Linked DNA regions of Homo sapiens: region 2 is linked to region 1. The links come from fine-mapping of genetic effects on gene expression. Tissue or cell type: sigmoid colon. Region 1 holds a variant in brackets; the other region holds the start of a gene. All regions are shown on one strand. Distances are between the middles of the regions.

What was found. PIP is the estimated chance that this variant, and not a neighbour inherited with it, causes the effect.
Region 2: it holds the start of ABCD3, and the variant in region 1 is fine-mapped to the expression of ABCD3 in sigmoid colon (GTEx, PIP above 0.99). The same link has a PIP of 0.9 or more in aorta, blood mononuclear cells, esophagus muscle, gastroesophageal junction, subcutaneous fat and tibial artery.

What each region holds. Positions count from the first base shown.
Region 1 is chr1:94,478,252-94,486,437 of GRCh38, forward strand. It overlaps ABCD3 (ATP binding cassette subfamily D member 3), which reads left to right. Exons shown (of 23, transcript NM_002858.4): 8 at 8-64; 9 at 2,213-2,355; 10 at 4,919-4,988. Among named protein-coding and RNA genes, the nearest start is that of F3, 59 kb to the right of the region's middle. The variant T/C (reference allele first, on the strand shown) is at 4,326.
Region 2 is chr1:94,414,794-94,422,979 of GRCh38, forward strand. It overlaps ABCD3 (ATP binding cassette subfamily D member 3), which reads left to right and starts at 3,596. Exons shown (of 23, transcript NM_002858.4): 1 at 3,596-3,795. The coding sequence starts at 3,686. RefSeq lists enhancers at 2,785-3,576, 4,048-4,187 and a silencer at 3,338-3,717.

The DNA of each region.
Region 1 (8,186 bases):
TTTACAGCCATTTTTAGACATAGTTTTGTATATCTTTAAGTTAACGAGTGCAATTGGAGCTCAGGTGAGTCTGCTTTTATTTCAACTTTTAAATTGATATAATATAATATTTGAAATACATATTGTGAATAGCTTGATGGCCTGTAAGAATTTTTGTAGATCTCAAAGAATGTATTTTCACATGATTTACCTAACAAAGTCTGGTTATAAAATAATACTTCATTCGAGATTTTAGAAGTACTAATTTTTCTTTTTAATTTTCCTTAAATTAGGTACTTGGAAAAATTTTGTGGCATTAAAAACCAGACAAATGTATTGGCCAGGCGTGGTGGCTCATGCCTGTAATCCCAGCACTTTGGGAGGCTGAGATGGGAGGATCGCTTGAATCCAGGAGTTCGAGACAAGCCTGGACAAAAAGCGAGACCCGCTTCTTTAAAAAATAATAATAAAACAGAAGTTCTTAAACCATGAATATACTTGTACTTATTGTTTCAAAGTAATGTCTAAAAAGAGATATGGAGACATCCATTTTAATATGAAATTCTAATGTTAAAATAACGATACATTTAGAGTGGGTGTAACAGTTCCAAGAATATTTTATAATGTAAATGGTTGGCTATCCCATGAGCCTTATTATCCAAGTCTCTGATATTTGTGATGGCAAGAATCACTTTTAAGTTTTCTTTGAGTTATCTTATTGAAATGTAACTTTAGTCATTTAATATGTAATGTTATTGTTACATATTTATAACACAGCCATATAATAGTATGGTTGTTTTACATATGTGTATGTGTGTATATGCATTTCAGTTGATTAATAAATTATTTCCATACTGGTTTTTGTTGCTTTCCAAAACACTGGAAAAGCAGGGTTTTGGTTTTGCTTTGTTTTGTTTTTCGAATTTTTCTGTTTATTTTCCTAATTCTTTGCTGTCTTGTGATCCAGGTTTTATCATTCTTGTATTTTGTTTTACTATAACCAAGTGAATAGGCCAAATCCTTCTTGTCTCCTTGCAGTCATATTTTTATGGTACTTAACTACATTTTTGTGATACTTAAATATGTCTCCATGTCTACTTGTTATCTGATTCTGCATTTCTTAAAGGCAGAAACTGTTTTAGTTATCTTTTTGGTCCACATTTGTAGTAGTTGTTGATATGCATTGAATTGATCAGATTTACTTTTTTTTTTTTAATCTTGAATACTTACTAGCACATATATTGTGCTAGATAGTAGGAATAAAAAGATAAGTAAGACACAATTCCTGCTGAAGAGGAATTACAATGTGGTAAAACAGGTAGATAGTCAAACAATTATGATGCAGCATGATAAAGTTTAGTAATAGAAGTTTCAAGAAAGTATTTAGTGCCAAGAAGAACTGGAGGTGATATCTGAGCTACTTTGGGGAGGTAAGTAAACATCCATTAGATTATGTCAGGCTTGCCAAACATAAGAACAACCTCACTGAATGGAAACTGTTCAGGAAACATTTATATATTTTAGTATGGCAGAGTATAGGGTATATAGGGGAATGAGGGAAGTGCCTATGATGAACTTGGAAAGGTATGCTTCAAGCATACCTTTCTTTTTCTCTTGGGATGGTCAATGGGTGATGAGGTCACGTACAAAGTTATTAATACATAGTACAGCAGCTGGAAGCAAGATGTACACGCAGGGAAAGACAGAGCTCGTTCAGGGGGAGCTGAACTTGAGGCATCTGCACAGTATTAAGGTAAAGATGTGTAGTACTTATTTCTTGGGTTCATAAGAGTGATAGGACTAGAGGTATAGATTTGAGATGAGAAGAGAACTAAGGAAGGAGTTTGAGGGAATATTAACATTAAAAAAGAAGGCAAGAAAAAGAGGTCTAAGAATTATTGTGGAATCTTAAGAGATTATCAAGAAGAGTTCCAACAGGAGAGTGTTAGATAACATAGAAAAACTGTGAACTGCAATTAGGAGTTTTTAGGTGAGCAAAATGTAGGAGAGCTGAGGGATAAGCTACAGTGGTAAGAGGAAAAGCCCATGAGTAGTAAAAGTGTAGAGGCTACTGTGTACTTTTTCAGAAAAAAAACAAAGGGAAAAAATTACCCAGTAGGGCAATTTCTTTCAGTCATTGAGGTTAATTATAAAAATTGTACATGTTTGTATCTAAGTGAATTTATTATTATATCCCAGAACTTTGTGTATCTTTCTCTCCCAATAATAATAGGGCCCAGCGAGCATGATGGCCTACTTGGTTGTTTCTGGGCTATTCCTAACTCGACTTCGAAGACCCATTGGTAAGATGACAATAACTGAGCAAAAGTATGAAGGAGAATATAGATATGTTAATTCTCGGCTCATCACAAACAGGTAAAGACAAATGCATTAAAGCCTTGCTAAAAATTAATTTCTATGGATATTGATGTCATTTAAATTGACTCCAAAAAGTCTAGTGACACTGTTACTGTAATAATGTGCATATTGTGTTGAAAATATACATTATGAAAGAGACTAGTTTTATAAAGTAGTAATCATGAATATTTTGAACTCTTTTTCTTACTAACCATGTAGTATTCCTGATTCACCTGTTCATACCTTCTGTTGATGAATTTTCTGTTAATTTTACTTCAGACATAATCAGTTTACAATTCAAATTTCAACTTACAATACCTGTTCCAAGACAATTTTGTCTCAATTTTTCCACAAATATTTTTATTTTGACTGTTCATAATGCTCAATGATTCACTGTCACTGCATGTGCCTCTACCTATTTTCTAGAGTTTTTTAAATGTAAGATAGGAAGAAAAAGTGTGGACTTTGGAGCCAGCCATACTAGCTTCAAAATCTACCTCTTCCACTTATCAGTTGCATGTATTTGATTTTAGCGAATTATTCATAGTTTCACTTTTGTTTATAATAGGTAGATAATATAGGGTTGCAATGAGGATTAAATTTGATAATACATATAAAGCTTCCAGCTCAGTTTTTTATATGGAGCAACTGCTCAATAAATGTTCTCATATATTGATCTGTTAATGTTAAGTCATTTTGAGGGTTCTAATATGTATTTAATATTCTACTCTATAGGCATTTGCAAATGACAGTTCCCTCTTCCTTTATTTCCTTGGATTGCTAAAATAGTACAAGTTTTAAATAGGGTTTTTTGCTCTAGGGAGGCAGCGGAATAGAGTTAAGAGGTGATTTGCCAAGTAAATGAAAGATGCCTTTTAGTGAAAGAAGCAGAAAGCATGACTCATGGCTCCAGTAATAAGAACACTCACTGCTTCACGTGAGAACCCTTAAGACAGGGCAGTTCCAGGTATGGCATTATCAGGGCTCTGGCTCTCTGGTGTTCTCTTGGCTCTGCCCTGCTTTGTATGCTGCCCCATTCCTCGGGCTAATTCTTCTTGTGACCACAAGATGGCGATAGCAGTTACAGATTTCACTAGCTCCTCTCCCCTGCAGAAAGCTCCAGAAACAAAAAGGGGCCATCTCGCCTGGTGTGTCTTTATGAGAGCAAAGAAACCTTTCCCAAGAGTCCCACAACTGACTTTCCCTCATATCTTATTGGCTGGAATGGTTACTTGACCATGCCTAAAGCAATCACAGCAAAGTGATTGGCTTAGACCAGTTGGGACCCTAAATGGGGTTGAGGCATTCCTAAAGCATTAGGGTACATGGAAAATAATAGATAACTTTACAAAAGTTGGGATTATTTTAGGAAGAAGAACAATGAAGAGAATAGATGTTGGATGGGCAGCCATCAATATTCCAGGATGTTTTATCCTTTCAGATTTTTCATTAAGGCTAAAATGACTCAGTTCAGGAGGAGAATCCTCACCTCATCTTCTTCCATAGGCTTAGGTGTGGAGAGGAGATAGAAGGAAGTTTTTTTAAAAAGTAATTAGAGGTATAGAATTGTAGGCTTCTTATACTCTTGAGTCTCTGTCATTGTGTCAAGGAAACCATGAAACGCGTGACAAATGTGTCATATCTTATGGGAAGTTAATTTTACTTGAAGTGGTTGAGGTAGGTGGTACCTTGTTTTTATGAAAAACGCAGGTCCATTTCAAAATAGAAATATAAAACATAAATTGTTTAGGGGAAAAAAGAGACTTTAAAGAAATATTTCAACCTTGCCTTCTAGACTTCTCTATAAATATTTTTCTCTGCCATAAGAGGTACTTTGCTGGGAAAGCTTACATCATTCCTGTGTAATAGAAAGACTATAAATGTTAGGGTCAGATAGGAGTTATGATTTCAGCTCCCTGACCTGCTGGCTCTGCAACCTTTACAAATTTACTTAACTACACTGAACTTCTCTTCATCTATAAAATACC[T/C]TTTTTTTCTAGTCGTGATCCCTGTGGCCCTTGTGGACCCATGCACATCTGCTCAGGAAACGTGGAATTGTTGTGAGGATATGATGGGGTTCCAGGGTTTCCTCCTGGGAGCTGGCACTTTGAAGCCGGTGGGACTTAGCCTGCTTTTCTGTCTTTAAAAGGCTGTATGTCAAGTCATCACTATCCATCTTTTTCTAGCTGTTGCTTTTTCATCTCTTTCTTGTTTGGGCCTGTACTTTAACTTGAAGTCTGCAATGTTGGTCCCAGCCCTGCCTTTCTGTACATCACAGCAACTTCTTTCTCTAATTTCGAATTTCTGAGAATTCGTGCAGTATGTCTTTTGCAGCCAGGATACCTATGCCATAGGTTGCAGTCCAGCATATGATTCAGTCAGGAGTGTATTCCTGTGCTCCGATCAGCTGAGCTAGGAACAGAATCTCAGGTATAGACTGTGGCTTGAGATGCACCAGATAAGCTCTTAGTCACAAAATGTCCATTTAAATACAAACATTCAGCCATCATATACTGTATTTCAATTATTTTCCAAGCATAGGTAACATTAAAATTAATTGCTAAATTATTTTCTTTAATAGTGAAGAAATTGCCTTTTACAATGGGAATAAAAGAGAAAAGCAGACAGTCCACTCAGTCTTCCGAAAACTGGTAAGATAACACACTTGAGGTTCATGTGTTTATGGAAAGGGTTTTTTTTGTTTGTTTGTTTTGCCTATGGCCGACACACATACACACACACACAAACACACACGTATGTATACATATCTTAAAGATTTTTTGAAAAATAGCTATAAAGGATTTTATACTGCATTTTTAATAAAAAATATGAGATTAAAAACTATCATATCAATATATTCAAGTGCCCATTTATAAAATTGCATAGATTTATTAAAATAATATTAAGTGTACCATCTGATCTTTGACAAACCTGACAAAAACAAGAAATGAGGAAAGGATTCCCTGTTTAATAAATGGTGCTGGGAAAACTGGCTAGCCATATGTAGAAAGCTGAAACTGGATCCCTTCCTTACACCTTATATAAAAATTAATTCAAGATGGATTAAAGACTTAAATGTCAGACCTAAAACCATAAAAACCCTAGAAGAAAACCTAGGCAATACCATTCAGGACATAGGCATGGGCAAGGACTTCATGTCTAAAACACCAAAAGCAATGGCAACAAAAGCCAAAATTGACAAATGGGATCTAATTAAACTAAAGAGCTTCTGCACAGCAAAAGAAACTACCATCAGAGTGAACAGGCAACCTACAGAATGGGAGAAATTTTTTGCAATCTACCCATCTGACAAAGGGCTAATATCCAGAATCTACAAAGAACTTAAACAAATTTACAAGAAAAAAACAACCCCATCAAAAAGTGGGCAAAGGATATGAACAGACACTTCTGAAAAGAAGACATTTATGCAGCCAACAGACACGTGAAAAAATGCTCATCATCGCTGGCCATCAGAGAAATGCAAATCAAAACCACAGTGAGACACTATCTCACACCAGTTAGAATGGCGATCATTGAAAAGTCAGGAAACAACGTGCTGGAGAGGATGTGGAGAAATAGGAACACTTTTACACTGTTGGTGGGACTGTAAACTAGTTCAACCATTGTGGAAGACAGTGTGGCAATTCCTCAGGGATCTAGAACTAGAAACACCATTTGACCCAACCATCCCATTACTGGGTATATACCCAAAGGATTATAATCATGCTGCTATAAAGACACATGCACACATACGTTTATTGTGGCACTATTCACAATAGCAAAGACTTGGAACCAACCCGAATGTCCATCAGTGATAGACTGGACAAAGAAAATGTGGCACATATACACCATGGAATACTATGCAGCCATAAAAATTATGAGTTCATGTCCTTTGTGGGGACATGGATGCAGCTGGCAACCATCATTCTGAGCAAACTGTTGCAAGGACGGAAAACCAAACACTGCATGTTCTCACTCATAGGTGGGAATTGAACAATGAGAACACCTGGACCCAGGGTGGGGAACACCACACACCGGGGCCTGTTGTGGGGTGGGGGCCTGGGGGAGGGATAGCATTAGGAGATATACCTAATGTAAATGACGACTTAATGAGTGCAGCACACCAACATGGCAAATGCATGCATATGTAACAAACCTGCACGTTGTGCACATGTACCCTAGAACTTAAAGTATAATCAAAAACATAAAAAAAAAATTAAGTGTATTTTTACAGAGGTTGCTTAGGAGCCTTATTTAGTGATTCCCACAGAAAGAATTTGTTCCTGAAGCATTCATGAAAATACAATAAAGATTATTATGTAAAGCAAGAGTCAGCAAACTTTTTCCATAAAGGGCAAGATAGTATGTATATATTTTAGGCTTTTCATACCACACAGTGTCTTGCAACTATTCAGCTCCGCTACTCAAGAGTAGCTATATATAATACATGAATGAGTGGGTGTGGCTATGTTCTAATAAAACTTTACTTAAAAAAACAAGTAGCAGGCTAGATTTGGACTATGGGTCAGAGTTTACTGGCTTTTTGTTTTAAAGAATATAAGCATTGTTTCTTGTGAAAGCTTTACTTCAGTTTTTATTTAATTGCCACTTGGAAAATTTGAATTCAAGTACTTTTATTCCATTATTTATTCAAAAGATATTGAATGCCGTCTAGTTGCCTGTGCTCACTCCAGGTGCTAAGGATGATGGTGGTGGACATGATGGATAAAATCTTGCCTTTAAGGAGCTTACATTTTAGTGGAAGTCTGAAGTTTGTGAAATTAAATGTATATTTTAGATGAGTTAAAGAGGTTAAAGAAATTGTCATTTTAAATTATTTCAGAAATTGGATTTTTGCCTCGTCGGTATTTAACATGGCAGAACTTTTAGAGTGCTCACTGGTAGAATGCATTTAAGGTAATTTTTCAGGGGCCTGCAGTTCACCAGTTTGCTCTCCACACGGCTTGCTTATTCTCATCCTTTAGATTTTCAGCCCAAATGTTAACACCTTATTGAAGCTTTGTCTTCTCTGATCAGCCTATTTGAAATGGCCTCCAACAGTTACTTCTTGTTTTAATCATCATCTTTCCTTAAAAGTATATATATATTTGCAGTCAACCCTCTGCATCTGTGGGTTCCAAATCCATGGATTCAACCACACAGATTGAAAATATTCAGAAAAAGAAATTGTGTCTGTACTTATGTACACATATTTTTTTCTTGTCATTATTCTCTGAACAATACAGACATTAGTGTAATAGCTATTTACATTGTATTAAGTTTTATAAGTAATTTAGAGATGACTTAAAGTGTTTGGGATGAGCCAGTTGCGGTGGCTCACCCCTGTAATCCCAGCACTTTGGGAGGCTGAGGCGGGCAGATCAGTTGAGGTCAGGAGTTCGAGACCAGCCTGACCAACATGGCAAAACCCCATCTCTACTAAAAATACAAAAATTAGCCGGTTGTTGTGGCGGGGGCCTATAATCCCAGCTACTCGGGAGGCTGAGGCAGGAGAATCACTGGAACCCAGGAGGCGGAGGTTGCATTGAGCCAAGATGGCACCACTGCACTCCAGCCTTGGCGACAGAGTGAGACTCTGTCTCAAAAAGTAAATAAAGTGTATGGGATGTCGTACTCAGGTATATGCAAATACTATGCCATTTTTCATCAGGGACTTGAGCATCCATGGATTTTGGTATCCAGAAGGTCCTGGAACCAATCCCATCCCCTTTGGATACCGAGGGATGACTGTATTACAGTCTCTAATTATCTTGTTTACTAGTTATGCTCTTTCATTAGAATGTAAACTCCATAAATTCAGGGACCTTCTCTGTTCTATTCATTGTATC
Region 2 (8,186 bases), 63 kb before region 1:
TTTCCATCTGTTTTTCAAGGTCACAGTGTCTGCATAATAAATTACCCCCAAATTTAGTGACTTAATACAATAAACACATTACCTTCCACAGTTTCTACGAGTCAGGAATTTAGCAGCATCTTGGCTGAGCTGTCTGGTTTGAGATTACTCATGAGGTTGCAGTCACCTGAAGGCTTGACTGAGGATGGAGGATCTGCTTCCAAGATGGCCCACTCCCATGGCTAGCAAGCTGGTCTGGCTCCTGGTGGGAGGCCTCAGTTCCTCTCCAGGGCACTTTGAGTGCTCTCTGTGGCAGCTGGCTTCCCCAAGAGCAAGCAATCCAAGACACCAAGGCAGAAGCCACAGTGCCTTTTATAATCTGGCCTTTGAAGTCACATAGCATCACCTTCATTATACTCTTTTGGTCACAAAACTCAGCTCTGATGTGAGGGAAATTCCATGAGGGCATAAATATTAGGACACCATGATCACCAGGGACAATCTTGGAGTCTGGCTAACACAACATTTCTTCCAGAGGCTTTCTAGATTCACTAACTTCCTATGCCCTGCCTACCTGTTCTCAGTAGCTCAAATTCTTTAAAAATCAGAGCTCTTGGAGATCTCCCCCATAAAATCACATTTTCTGTTTTTCTTTATTATTTAATATTATGAAGTGTGAACTTGCAAAATTGCATTGTTAATTATCAAAGGACATAGTGCTGAGGAATTTTGTTCTCTAAAATCCTAGACTGTTAGAAAGTTTGTTGTTCTGAGATTCTATCAGTGAGAACAGAACATCCCTTTCTTGCCTGGCAGATTTGAACTCTTTGAGTCACTTAGAGTTACAGAAGCAGTCTCCATTTCCAGTGCAGAAGTTCAGATAAGGGATTTTCAGACACAATATTCTACATTAATCTTAAATGTATGTTTCTAAGAACTAGAATCTTGAATCTGCTTCTCAGCCCAGGTTTGATATTACATACAGATCTGATTTGCTTTAGGCCTATCAAGCACTGCTTTATTTAGATTTTACCTAAACTCCTCTCTTTCTCTAAATACTATAATGACTCCTTATTTCTTCCTTTTTTTTGAGACATGGCCACAATTCCTCTGCTGTATAGTATCTTTTGCTGTAGCAAATTAATAAACTTAATGGGTTCCAGATTTGGTCCTGGTGATTTTTGTCAGATGGGCTTTATCAATAGCTAAAATTATTTGAGCTCGAATAACTAGTGTAATTTTTTAGAATCTCCCATGCTTCTTGAACAAGGGTAACTTTTAGAATGTTTTGTCAATAGATCATTTCTATCTTTCCTCTGACTGTTTTGAAATCTATTTTCTAGACTGTTTTTGACTAATCTTGCTTGTACTTCCTTCACTGTTACAAACTCTAAGATGATACCGTTACTTTCTCACAAGGTTCCCAACTCTTTTCTAGCACTTTATTACTGAATTAGTAATTTCCTGTTTTGTCCTCCTGAGTGACTCCTGCGGTCCTTTAGAATTTAGCTACAGAATCACCTTTGTCAAGCCTTAAGCCTTTATTGAAAGCATTAGACAAAACTAAATATTTTCATGTTTGTGTTCTCATAGCACCTTGTTCATATCTCTAATATAGTACTTACCACATTTATACTTGATTTTTTTTACACGTTTTTCTTCTCTAACAGCCTCTGGAGAATATGATCTCCATGATCTGTTCATCCTTGTGTTATCTGTGCCAGGCATACTTAATTACGTAAATTATGTGAGGTCGTTGGGGCTCACAACACAATACTCCAAAATGAAGGTCTCAGTAGCAAAAGTTCTCTGCCCTACTCTGGCCCTCCTGTCTCTCAGTCCCGTATTTCCCTAGGCTAGCCATAGATATTAGGATCCCTATTCCTCAAGACAAGATGTAGAAACCAGAACCTCTATCCCCTAAAGCCAGCCATAAAAGCCTAAACATATTTTGCTAGTTTTCCCTCCCCCTTTTTCTGTAAAATCTGGCCATAAAGAAATTATCTGACCTGCCTTGTTTGACTGTAGGCTGTTAAGAGCTCCATTCCATTCCTGCCCTATACCCAGAAGGAAGGAATGGTGCTCAGAAGGCCAAGAAGAATCTAGACAGGCCTTGCTGGGTGTCCCCACTCAGTCTGTTAGCATTAGATTATACCATTTTTGTCCAATCACATTTCTACATAGCTGTCCATACTTTGTTGAACCTAAACACAAAAATGGACAATTTTCCAAGTATCTTTGGGTCTCCATTCTGAACGCTCCCATGTATACACATTAAATTTGTATGCCTTTTCTCCTATTAATTTTTTCTTCTATTAATCTGCCTTATGTCAGCGGTTTTCAGTTAACTTTCAGAGGGCCAAAACCTTTTGTCCCTCCAGGTAATGAAAATGTCCACATGACAAATAGTGAATTAGTAGGAGCTTCAGTTCTGCATAATTTAGAATTCACTGTTGAGCACCTCTATACGCATGCCATTATTGTACCTCGTCTTTGTGATCCTCATAACCTGTATTAGGCAACAGCTCATTTATATTGAGAAAACACCTAGGGCACAGCACCACTACTTTGTAGGCTACTTTAATATGTATGTGCATTATGCGAGGTTTTATGAGCTTATTTTCTGACACACTTGCTTTTCTCCAGTTTCCTCAGCTGAAAACAGCGATTCACTGTTACTGTATATATGCTAGGCTCAATGCTGGCGATAACAATTCCTGCAACATAGGGTCAGACAGGAGAAGAATGTTGTAATCTGCAAAGCCCTTCTGATTCTGGGAGTGAGGCCAGCATTAATACAACGCACGATTGTTACTTCTGAATGTCCCTTTGCAAAGAACAGTGTTTCTCAAACTTTTTTCTGACCAGATCTGCATACATTTTACATCGCCGCTGGCGATACATACGTGCAAAACACTGAAATCGAAATTTCTCTAAACAACTCCTTTACTACGTGATGTACTGTGAAACTTTTCTATTTTGTTCTATTCTCAATTTTATTAAAAACGGAGGGTGATGATCCCGATCTACCAAACCAATTTCACAATGCGCTAGAGATTATAACCCGCGGTTTGGAAAATACTGGCTTGGAAAAAGCTCTTTGATCTGTGTCATTCTCCTCACATCTCCCTACACCTCTGCGGAGTTCCGATTGTTTGGTTTCGTCCTGATAATCACTGTGCTGTGTTTTCCCTACACGCTCTGTGACGGGGCCGTCCGCCTCCTTCCTGGGCTCCTTTAAGAGGGTGGTAACGGTACATCACCGCGGGAGTGGAGAGGCAGGGCCCACTAGGTCGTCGCTGCAGGCCAGGCCCGCTCATCCAGTTATTGTGAAAGCCGGGGTGTGCGCGCGAAGAGTGGGAGGGTAGGGGTGAGGCAGGGGCAGCACTGACGCCTCGCAGGGCTGAGTAGCAACAGCTCCTCCGCGCCGCGTTTCCGGAGACCCTGAAGGAGTCCGCGCGTGCGCAGAGCGCGTCCCGGGAACTGTTCCGCCCACGGAGGCTGCCGAGCGCGCTCCCGCCGGGCCAAAGTACAAAGTGGGCTCCAGAGCGCGGGCGGCGCGGCGGCGCGAGCCAGGGGGCGGTCCTGCGCGGCCGGCCCCGCCCTCTGCTCTCCTCCCAGTCTCCCCCGCGCTGCGTGCAGTAAGGTAGCCGCCGCCGCCGCCGCCGCCGCGTCCCCTCGCCGGCTCGCTGGTACCGGCAGTGCCATGGCGGCCTTCAGCAAGTACTTGACGGCGCGAAACTCCTCGCTGGCTGGTGCCGCGTTCCTGCTGCTCTGCCTGCTCCACAAGCGGCGCCGCGCCCTCGGCCTGCACGGGTAAGAAGGCCCGTAGCCGTGCAGCTTTCCCGGGCTGGAGCGGGCGCTCCCCGCGCGCTCTCTCTCCCCACCCGGCCGACAGGTCTCTTTGCCCGACGGGGTCGGGCGGAGAGAGGGCCGACCGCGACTGCCGTGGGACTTCAATGTCAGGGTGTCCGCGAGTCCCCGCCACGACGGCGTCGGTCCCAGCTGGCCTGTCCGGCGACCTCGCTCCACCCCGGGAGTGCGAATTCTTCTGTGCCCGCGGGCGAACCGGCGCCCAGCCAGCACTCAGGCAGCGGCCTCCAGTTGGGGGTGGGAGGGGGATGCGGTGTGTCCCCCACCCCCTTCCCTACATCACCCCCTTCTGTGTCAACTTTCTGGGTGTGTTCTGGTTTTGCCATCTCATCTTCAGACCGTGAAGGATTTGTTTTGGGGACGTGGATGTGTGATTGAGGATGGGGATTGGATTCGCCAGGCTGGAGGCTGGTGTCTAAGTCACTTGGACGAGGTTTGGCTCGATTCCCGACTAACTGCTATTGAAAGTCGCGAGGGTGGCTTCTATGAAACTATTCCCGGTCCACTTGGCAGGATTGCCGTCTAAAGTGGTGAGCCCTTGGAGTCGGTGAACCCTTTGGTCGGTGAACATTTGGTCGGTGGCATTTCATCCGGAAAGGCTGGATCGGTTCTGTCGGACTTAGAGGGAAATGTTTTCCTTCCTGGGCTCTGTAGGTGAAAGATGAGAGTGTGGTTTAGGTGAGGATCAAGCTCCTTTTTAATGACACGCCACTGCTTCCACCGCGGGAGAATTTCAGTGCTTAGATTTAACTTTGGGAGGTTATCAGTTCAGAAAAAGTAAAAAAGAGAGAGCTGAATTACGGTTGCGACATACAGGTATGTATGTCACATACATGCAATTTTTATTTGCTGGACAAGTGAAAGAGAAAAGGCTACTTCCCAAGCGTTCTTGCCAGTCATTGAATATTTCGTATTAAATCTTGACATACTACTTTCATGAATTTTATTTCATTCATTCCTCTGAGCAGGTACTGTTGCCTCCCGTGTTTGATTTGCCTACAATATCTAATTAGTAGTAAAATTTGGGCTAAAACACAAATAGACTTCTAGTTTATAGTACCCTTTCCATTAAGTTCTTTCTAGCCGCCTTCTGTTTTTATCTTACTAGAGTCTGAAGTGATGATCTTTCTTTTCCTTCCTAAATCCATTTAACAGAGTTGAAAATGATTTGCAGCATAGTCTGGGCAATAACAGCGCTTACTCATTTTTCTTCTATTCAGTTTGCTTTTAAAAGGATTAATTTGGGAAAATAAAAAGCAAGTTTTTCTGTTGGTTTGTATGAACTCCCAGTTGCAAATAGAAGTTACCTGTTACCTGGGAACATGCCAGTAGAAAGAAGATGTTAGGTCCTTTAACTTGAATTCTGTTTTTGCAAAGAAGTGTTTCAGGGCATAGAACAGGTGTTTTAATATGGAGGAGGGGACTCGAGGACAGCCCTACAAGTTCTGGATTACTTTTATGATTATATGTATATGTGATATAGTATCACATACATGCCACATACATATAGTACACATAGAGCTTGAAGAATTTTTACAAGTAGAACACACTCGTGTAATCAGCACCCAGATCAAGAAACAGAACATTATCAGCACCCCAGAAATTCTCCTCATGCCCCCATCCAGTCACAGTCCACCTAACTACTAAACCAGTTTGTAAGACCATAGATTATTGCTAAGGGAAATTTTAAACAGAATCTATTGGGAAATAGTAGCGATAGAAGTAAAATAATGTAATAGAATTTGTCTTATTAAATAATTTTAGCTCCTCATTTGCCATTGTAAAATGCCTAAAAAAATTTTTTTTTGAGAAACTTTGTGAGCTTTTGTGGGGATTAAATTCTTTAGCAGGAGATGTACTGAACAAAAGATTATTATTAGTCTTTTGCATTGGGATGAGTGGGGAAAATCTCTATTTTACACAGTATTTTGTTGGAGGAGATTGCAGATTCTGAGCAGATAATCATGAAGTTTAAATTGTTGAGGTGAAATGATTGAACTATTTTGAAACCATTAAAAATGGTATTGAGTGTATTTTTGTAGATATTGTACTTCCAGAAGCTTACAAATATCTTTTAGTCACCACCTTTGGTATCACAGTTTGAAGATTAGAAGATTCTAACTTTATATTTGAGTGGGCTTTTGAATATCTTTGGTAACAGAACTGATTAATTTTAATATCTGGTGCTTAATTAAGGAAACTGTGGCTACTTGGCCTTCTTTTGTCTATGTTGTTAATAGTAGGTTGGTTTTAGAATATATATTCCCTTAGAATTGGATAGGTAATAGAGCTAGTAAAATCACTTTAAAAGTTACAGTGTAACATTATTCCAAACATTGGGAGAATGAGTAATTAAATGTTCTGGGTTACTTTTAATTTTTGTTAATGTAATTTTTTTCACTCAGTTAAATCTCATATATATGTGTGTGTGTTTCTGACCTTTTATTGTGGAAAATTTCACACATATAAAAAATAAATAGAATAATACAAGGATTGCCCAATGCACTTTACCCAAGGAGTACCAACAACATTCTATATTCTTGTTTCATCTATTTCAACCTGCCTGTCACCCCTTATTTTTATAGGTTTTTTAGGTAAAATTTATATACATTGAAATGTACAAATATTAGTTGTACATTTTTTAAACAAATGGATACACTATGTAACACATCCCTATGACAAATTAGAACATTTCTATCCCACCAGAAAGTTCCTTTGTATTCATTCCTGATCAGCTTGTATTCACTCCTGATTCCAGCACTGCTAAGCTAACTTTTTCACCTTAGTTTGCCTAATCTTACCTTTTATTTTATTATTTATGGGGAAAAGAAGAATCTTTTTACTCATGGATAAAGAGGGCTATTTAAAGGAAGTGTCTATTTCAGAATGTTATATTACTGTACTGGGAGCTATAAGATGTGTGTGTGTGTGTGTGTGTGTGTGTGTATTACAAAAATATATGACTTGTTTTCTCAGGGAGCTTACCTTCTTGTTAGGGAAAAGAAACTTAAACACTGATAGCAGAATGAAATGTACAGATAGACATGTCTTAGAAGTTTTGAGAAAGACAAGATTAATGTGTTTGGGAAGGGTTGGGGAAGGCTTCATGAAGGATGTGTGTTAAGCCTAGAAAGGGGGTAGGAGTGGATAACTGGAATAAAGTGACTGTTACAGCATCCTTTATCAGATTTTTGTTGCATTTATGTTAGAAAGAAACTTTGTGGTGCCCTTTCAATCCATCTTCCACTGCCACCAGAGCTCTTTTTAAGAAGCTCAGATATGATCATAATATTCCTTCATTAAAATCATTAATCTACTCTAAAATACAAACTTTCTGTATTCATGGTGTGGTCCTTCCCTACTTTTCCCACTCATCCAACCATAAGTGCTGGGATTACAGGCATGAGCCAACTTGCCCAGCTGATACTTCTTTTTCTTCAAGACTCAGTCAACACTTTGTCTTAGGTGTTTTCTGTCTTTTTCTGATTTCCAAACTGATGTAAGTGTCCTCTGCTTTTATGATACTGTAGGCCAGGGGTCCCCAACCCCCGGGCTGTGGACTGGTACAGGTTGGTGGCCTGTTAGGACCCAGCTGCACAGCCTGTGCAAGCGAGCATTACCACTTGAGCTCCGCCTCCTGTCAGATCAGCAGGGGCATTAGATTCTCATAGGAGCGTGAACCTGTTGTAAACTGCACATGTGAGGGATCTAGGTTGCACACTTCTTATGAGAATCTAATGCCTGATGATGTGAGGCAAAACAGTTTCATCCTGAAACCATCCCCCAACTCAACCCCAATTTGTGGAAAAATCGTGTTCCGCAAAACTGGTCCCTGGTGCCAAAAAGGTTGGAGACTACTGCTCTAGGTATCCCCTACTCTAGCACTTACCATTCTGTATTGTACTAGTTTGTTTTCTTGGCTTTTGCCTACATCAGATCCTGAGTTTCTTGAGGGCATGAACTGAGTCATCTTTAATTCCCTAGTTCGGCTCTGTCATGGGTTAGACAGTGTTTATAGAGAGGATAAATGACATAGGATAGTTGAAGAACTTTTAAGCGTAATTGACAGGCATTTGGAGATGCCTAGTACAAACATGAATAGAAACATTCTTTTTGCAGAAGTAATAGTTGTGTACCTGAGCATATATAACCTGACCTGGGTAGTGGGAAATCAGTGGGCCAATTTTAGAAGGCAGGGAATGGTACCAGTCTGTATAGCCATAGTATTTTATTATCTTTAAAAAACAGAACAGAACAAAGCAGTTTCTTTCGCTTCTTATCAATGCTTGTCAAATAGAGTTCGGATTTCTCATCTTGGATTTCAGAGCCTCCCT